2 separate regions of the Homo sapiens genome follow, and region 1 is reported to be linked to region 2. Evidence: microRNA targets listed by miRTarBase, many of them from high-throughput screens and not tested one by one. Region 2 holds a microRNA gene; the other region holds the end of a gene's coding sequence.

The links. Region 2 holds the annotated microRNA hsa-miR-380-3p (UAUGUAAUAUGGUCCACAUCUU, at 2,081-2,102, shown strand). A microRNA usually pairs through its seed, bases 2 to 8, with sites in the 3' UTR of a target mRNA and lowers its output. Matches are read on the target gene's strand: a 7mer-m8 pairs with bases 2 to 8, a 7mer-A1 pairs with bases 2 to 7 and ends in A, and an 8mer does both.
Region 1: the mRNA of CAPZA2 is a reported target of hsa-miR-380-3p. Seed matches in the 3' UTR shown: 8mer at 1,785-1,792.

The regions. Positions count from the first base shown.
Region 1 is chr7:116,917,211-116,920,624 of GRCh38, reverse strand. CAPZA2 (capping actin protein of muscle Z-line subunit alpha 2) reads right to left here. Exons shown (of 10, transcript NM_006136.3): 10 at 1-2,898. The coding sequence ends at 2,758. Among named protein-coding and RNA genes, the nearest start is that of ST7, 35 kb to the left of the region's middle. RefSeq lists a silencer at 1,681-2,395.
Region 2 is chr14:101,022,976-101,026,389 of GRCh38, forward strand. MIR380 (microRNA 380) reads left to right here and starts at 2,042; the gene lies at 2,042-2,102. LOC124903407 (mucin-2-like) reads left to right here. Exons shown (of 5, transcript XM_047432049.1): 5 at 1-3,414. It overlaps MIR411 (microRNA 411), which reads left to right and starts at 350; the gene lies at 350-445. MIR299 (microRNA 299) reads left to right here and starts at 819; the gene lies at 819-881. It also overlaps MIR1197, MIR323A and MIR758.

The DNA of each region.
Region 1 (3,414 bases), not on the chromosome of region 2:
CTCCAAACCAACTTGCTCCTACAAGAATCTTCCTCAATTTCTCCAGCCCCAGACATGGTTCTCTTTATCTCACACTCCATGACCAAACTCTCCCCAGGTCTTGCTGATTTTACCTTTAGGATATACCTAGACCTCACTGCTTTATACCACCTCTACAGCAACCACCTCAGTCCAAGCCAGCATGCTCTCTCAACTAGATTACTGCAGTAGTCTCCTAGCTGTTCTCCCTGATTATGCCTTTGCCACCACACTTCAGCCTACTCAGCAAAGCAGCCATAATGTCTCCTACTAAAATTACATCCCTGAGCTATAGGATACTCTGGGTTTCCATTCTTCTTTCACTTTAATAAATGCCATTCTTTTATTATTATTATTATTTTGAGACAGAGGCTCCCTGTGTCACCCAGGCTGGAGTACAGTGGCTCGATCTCTGCTCACTGCAACCTCCACCTCCCGGGTTCAAATGATTCTCCTGTCTCAGCCTCCTGAGTAGTTGGGATTACAGGCGCGCATCACCATCCCCGGCTAATTTTTTTTTGTTTTTAGTAGAGACGGGGTTTCAGCATGTTGGTCAGGCTGGTCTCGAACTCCTGACCTCGTGATCCACCCGCCTCGGCCTCCCAAAGTGCTGGGATTACAGGTGTGAGCCACTGTGCCCTGCCTAATAAATGCCATTCTTATACTATAAAAGACTATTCTGTGCCATCATTATTTCAGACTGTTCTAAATTATATTATTATTATTATTATTATTATTTTTTGAGACAGAGTCTTGCTCTGTCACCCAGGCTGGAGTGCAGTGGCGCGATCTCGGCTCACTGCGAGCTCCGCCTCCCGGGTTCACGCCATTCTCCTGCCTCAGCCTCCCGAGTAGCTGGGACTACAAGCGCCTGTCACCACACCCGGCTAATTTTTTGTATTTTTAGTAGAGACAGGGTTTCACTGTGTTAGTCAGGGTGGTCTCAATCTCCTGACCCCGTGATCCACCCGCCTCGGCCTCCCAAAGTGCTGGGATTACAGATGTGAGCCACCGCGCCCAGCCTGTTCTAAATTATTTTTGATAAATCTTCCGTCTCACAAGCAAATCACCTTAAAAACAGTTGCATACATTTTCAGTAATGCATTCCAGACTAGAACAGAGATAGGAAATTGATGACTTTCATGGGATAGAAACTCATGATGGCCTAACTGATACAACTAAGCTTGTCAATTAGATCTAGTATTTAGTTCACCATCATCAAACTTTCAAATATATATATTTTAAAAAGGAACAGATAATTAATGTTACCAATTCATTTTCTTTAGGAATCCCAATGTGCCAAAACTTGTATTTTAAAACTAAAGAAAAGATGATTTAGACAAAATGTCATAATTTCATATTATATTCTCAATGCTTTCAAAGCCCAACAGTGATTTTAAAAAGAAATTAAACAACATGCTTTCATTGAATTTTTAAAAATCTATACAATTCAAGCTAATGAAATATTTTATTGTACATAATAAAAGTGGTGTTTTTCTAAAAAAAAAAACAATAAAATAAAATAAAAAAAAAATTTCCAGGCCCAGACGTCTGTGGGAGTACGTGAGGAAAGGATTCCACTCAAGTATAATCAGCAATACTCTATTGAATGAAACCATAACTCCACTTCACTCCCTATGGTAAATACTAACATTCACCACAGGCTTGAAATTCCTGTAGCATCAGTAGAACTATTTTTGAAAATATTACAAACATGCTTATGATGCATAGGAGGATGAAAAAATTTAGACTGTAACCGCACACCATATGTAATCCCAGCTTTTCTAATTTACAACCAGTTAAGAATTACAATATCCAAAGAAAGTATTTTAAAATATATATGCTCACTGGTAAGTGATTTTCTACTCAAATAAATAGGAAAATTTGCATTTTAATGTCACATTGAATTTCAGTACTTTTCAATCCAAGAAAAAAAAAATAAACCGAGACATGGTCATGAGTTCAGGATTATATATATTACAATTTGCCTTGTTATAATACATTTGTGGCTTTATGATAAAAATAACTCAGGGACATATGGAATTCAAGCTGATTTGCGTAACTGTCACAAGAAAAAAAGCATTAAATGCATTTCTGAAATAAGTATTTTCATTAATTTCAGAATCTCAAAACAGCATTAGACCTTGCCTTGTTTAAAAAAAATTTAGTTCAACACTAAGCTAGCTAAATAACCTTCTTGAAAGGTTTAAACACAATTGATATAGAAAATGCTTTCCCTCTAATCTCAACTTTACATAAATGGAACAGGTGAGGAAGAAAAGGTAGACAATTTCTTTAGCAGCATATATGGCTAAATCCATCAACCACCTTAAACTAGAATGTCCATTATTGACCCCATTAAAAAGAACTGGGGAAATATCAAAAATTACTGATTTCATAAACCAAAAGACATCAATTTTAGGGTTACAGTTAGTAAAATATTTTTGAGACACTTCAAAAACTTTTAACCATAAACTAGAAGAATCATCTCTTCATTGTAAGAAAGAAAGGCCTAACAGAAAGACATTTAAACTAAACTGATTTTCAATCCTCTTAGAACAAACAAAATGAAAAATAATGGTTGATTAGCTAAGCTTTGTGCTCTAATCAAACTAATTAATTACAGTGATTTTAAATGGCAACAGCCCATCTGACTGGGCAGCTTGACAGTTCAGAATACTTTTGCAATGATTTTTTAACGCAAAGACACTAAAATGATCCGGTCATGCAATGTTCATCTTATGCATTCTGCATCTCTTTGCCAATCTTGTAGCTAAGGATCTTGTTCCAATCAATCTTAGTGCGTGTAACTGGCAACTGTCGACGTAAGGCTTTGAAAGTAGTGTCCGACATTGTCTGATAATTCTCACTGATGGCAGTCTATGAAAAACAATAGTTAGAAGTTTAAAGTAAAGCAAAGAACAGAACAATTTATAAAGCACATAGATGTTTTCAGAATAAGTTTTATTTAAGCAGCCTGTTTCACTGTTTTTAAACAGTCAAATAAAATCCCAACATTGTTTTAAAAGCTGTTTAACAGCAGCTAGAAGAGCCGGGCGCGGTGGCTCACGCCTGTAATCCCAGCACTTTGGGAGGCTGAGGTGGGCGGATCACGAGGTCAGGAGATCGAGACCATCCTGGCTAACACAGTGAAACCCTGTCTCTACCAAAAATACAAAAAAAAATTAGTCGGGCATGGTGGCGGGCGTCTGTAGTCCCGGCTACTCGGGAAGCTGAGGTGGGAGAATGGCGTGAACCTGGAAGGCGGAGCTTGCAGTGAGGCGAGATCGCGCCACTGCACTCCAGCCTGGGCCACAGAGCAAGACTCTGTCTTCAAAAATAAATAAATAAATAAATAAAATAAAAGCAGCTAGAAGAAAAAGCCTATAATAATTT
Region 2 (3,414 bases):
TGTCCTCCCTCCCATCTACCCACTCCTTCAGACCCAGCACAGTGCGCCTGGCACACAGCAGGCACTTAATCAGTATTTATGGAGTGATGAAATCCATATCATCGTCCACTTCTTCTCAGTGGGACTTTCGGCCTCGAAGGGCTTCCTGGAGGAGTTGCCAGTTTTGGGGATGAGCCACTGCTTCGAGCATTCATGTCAACCCCCGACCATGAAGACGAGACTCCTGGCCTGTGTGTGCTTGTCGCATGATGCATGTGCTGTGCTCAACCTCCCTTCTGGTTCCACCCAGCTCAAGGCCTTGGAGGGCTTTCTGGATGTGTCCTGAGCCTTTGTCCTCGGCATCTCTGTGTGGTACTTGGAGAGATAGTAGACCGTATAGCGTACGCTTTATCTGTGACGTATGTAACACGGTCCACTAACCCTCAGTATCAAATCCATCCCCGAGGCTCCTGGAAACAACGCTGTCTTCGGGGAGGAACGGTTGGACCCACCACCACTTCTCCATGACACCCGAAGAGATGATTTTCTGTATGGCATGTGTTTTTCTGCATGATGCAAAATGGCATAATCTCGCTCCTCTTAAATCAAGTTCTGCCTTGGGAAATCGCGCCATCCCTGGGGAGGAGACCTTGATTCTTCCCGGAATCAGTGCCATTCCATGGTGCTCAATGACGTGGTTGACTACGCTACGCTTATTCAGTAGACACCGTGACCTGCTTCTTCTCAGCGTCAAATGCAGCCTAGAAGAAGCGCCCTCAGGCAACTTCGTGGACATGAGCCTTCTTCCAGCCACCACCACCACCATCGTGCGGTACTTGAAGAAATGGTTTACCGTCCCACATACATTTTGAATATGTATGTGGGATGGTAAACCGCTTCTTGGTATCCAGCCCAGCCATCCAAACCTCCCTGGAGAAAGCCTGGAGTTAGAGGAGAGCCACGGGTCTCGGCATCCGCCATGCCATGGCACTTGGTGGAATGGTAGACTCTTAGATGTGTGCTTTCTCTGTCAATGCTTGTGATGCGGTCTTCTCCTCAGTGCCAAACACAGCCTCCAGTGACTTCCTCAGGACAAGGATGACCTCCAGGAAGGTGTCCTACTGCCCACGTTGGCACATCCCTCTGGAGTAATTGAAGAAACGGTGGCTGGTGCCGCAAATGTTCATGAACGAGGGATGTGAAACAGGTCACCTCTCATCCTCAGAGCCCTCCTCAGATGACTTCAGGACAGTACGCCCATGTAGGAGCAGATATGGGTCCAGGAGATGATGCCACTCCAGGTACTTGAAGACGCACTGACTCGTTTTTGTCTTTGCTGATGCGTGTACAGTCTATCTTTTTTCCATCTCAAGTCTAGCCATCTCGGGGGAAGATGTCCCAGCTCTGGACTCAGCACTGATCCTCATGAAGAGCTGCTCGACCCCATCGTGTATGTTTACAGAGGAAGTGCCTCCATGGCCCACTTCTTCCCTATCTCCATCCCAGAACCCTTGCTTGGAGAACTTGCTGAAGAAGCTGCCAGCCTCAGGGACAGAGCACTGGTTCTGGCCTCTTCACTGACCTCACGGTACCTGAAAAGGGTTCAGCCACACTGCATGTCTTTTCCCCATGACGTATGTAACATGGTCTACTTCTTTTGAAGTATCCCATTCAGCCTGGAAAGTCTCCAGGGAGGTTATGTTAAGCTTAGGAGACAAAGCACCAGTTCTGGTACAAGTACTGCCTCGGGGTACTTAGTAGAAGTTGGCCATGCTTCATATGTTTTACTTACAACGCATGTTACTTCGTCCACCTTCCTATAACAGCGTGCACCTCGGGGGGCTTTCTGTAGGCAGGAACGAGTGTCAGTCATAGCACTAGTTCCAGCATCATCTCCATTCTTGAGGGGCTCCTTTGTGCTGCGTCCACTGCATCTGCGGCAGACATTGCATGGTGGCCTCTTCTCAATACTACATCAGGCCTCAGAGGGCTTCCTGGAGGTGATGCTAGTGAGAGGAAAGAGACACCGGCTCTGACCTCAGCCCTCTCCAAGGTACCTGAAAAGATGGTTGACCATAGAACATGCGCTATCTCTGTGTCGTATGTAATATGGTCCACATCTTCTCAATATCAAATTCAGTCATAGAGGGCTTCCCAGAGAGAGGCAAAGTCACCTTCGTGGGAGACACACTGATCTGGCTTCAGCGCCATTCCACAGTACTTGGAGAGATGGTAGAGCATAAAGCATATGCATTGTTGAATGACAGATGTAGCATGGTCCACTCATTCTCAGTATCAGCCAGCCCTGGGGCTTCCCGGAGGCCATGCCGACTTGAGAGCCAGGCCTGAGTGGTAGCCAGGGTGCAGTGCAGGTCACCGGGTGGTTGGCTGCAGACCCAGTCCTTTATTTATTACATTGGCCATTTGGTCCACCAGCCAAGAACTCAGTACCGGTCCCACCCTTACAGGGCATCCTGGAGGTGGTAGTGGCATTGGATGTGGGTTTGTGGTCATTGCCACATTGCCGGTGGCTGGTAGTTCATGATGCGCATTGTGAGGCTTTCTGGAGGTGATAGCAGGTGAAAGGAAGAGAGCCAGGGGTCAGCGTCACTTCCTGGTATTTGAAGATGCGGTTGACCATGGTGTGTACGCTTTATTTGTGACGTAGGACACATGGTCTACTTCTTCTCAATATCACATCTCGCCTTGGAAGACTTCCAGGAGGTGATATCAGCTTTGCGGAAGAGCCACTGTCCTGGTGTCAGTACGGCTGCTGCTTGGTACTTGGAGAGAGGTGGTCCGTGGCGCGTTCGCTTTATTTATGGCGCACATTACACGGTCGACCTCTTTGCAGTATCTAATCCCGCCTTGCAAGCTTTCCTGGAGCTAACATCAACTGCGGGGGTGGGGGCCACTAGGTCTGCGCTCAGTGTGACCCAGCGGGGTTTGTGATGTGTTTGTCTTGTGTGTGACGATAACTCACGTGTGGCAGCCTTCTTCTCAGCACACTGCTCTGGCTTGGCAGCAGGGTTAACTTGCGGACAAGGAGCGTGGTGTCAGCACGTGCCTGGATACATGAGATGGTTGACCAGAGAGCACACGCTTTATTTGTGCCGTTTGTGACCTGGTCCACTAACCCTCAGTATCTAATGCCCCCTTGGAGAACTTCCTGGAAGAGGTGTCAACTTTTTGGGAAAGAGACAGTAAACTGGGGCCAGCTGCACTCTGTTAGACTCTGAAGAGAGCATCTGCGAGGCGTTTGCGACATGTATGCCAAATGTGGCTGAGTTGGACTGATTTTCACTCCGATCTCTTTCCTTGGAGGGCTTCCTAGATGTGGAGGCATCCAAGTTCAAGGGAAGGGGCATGCTGTCTATACCATCCCAAAGTCCTCCAGTGATCAGCTGACCTGAGTGTATGCACTTTAATTTACAA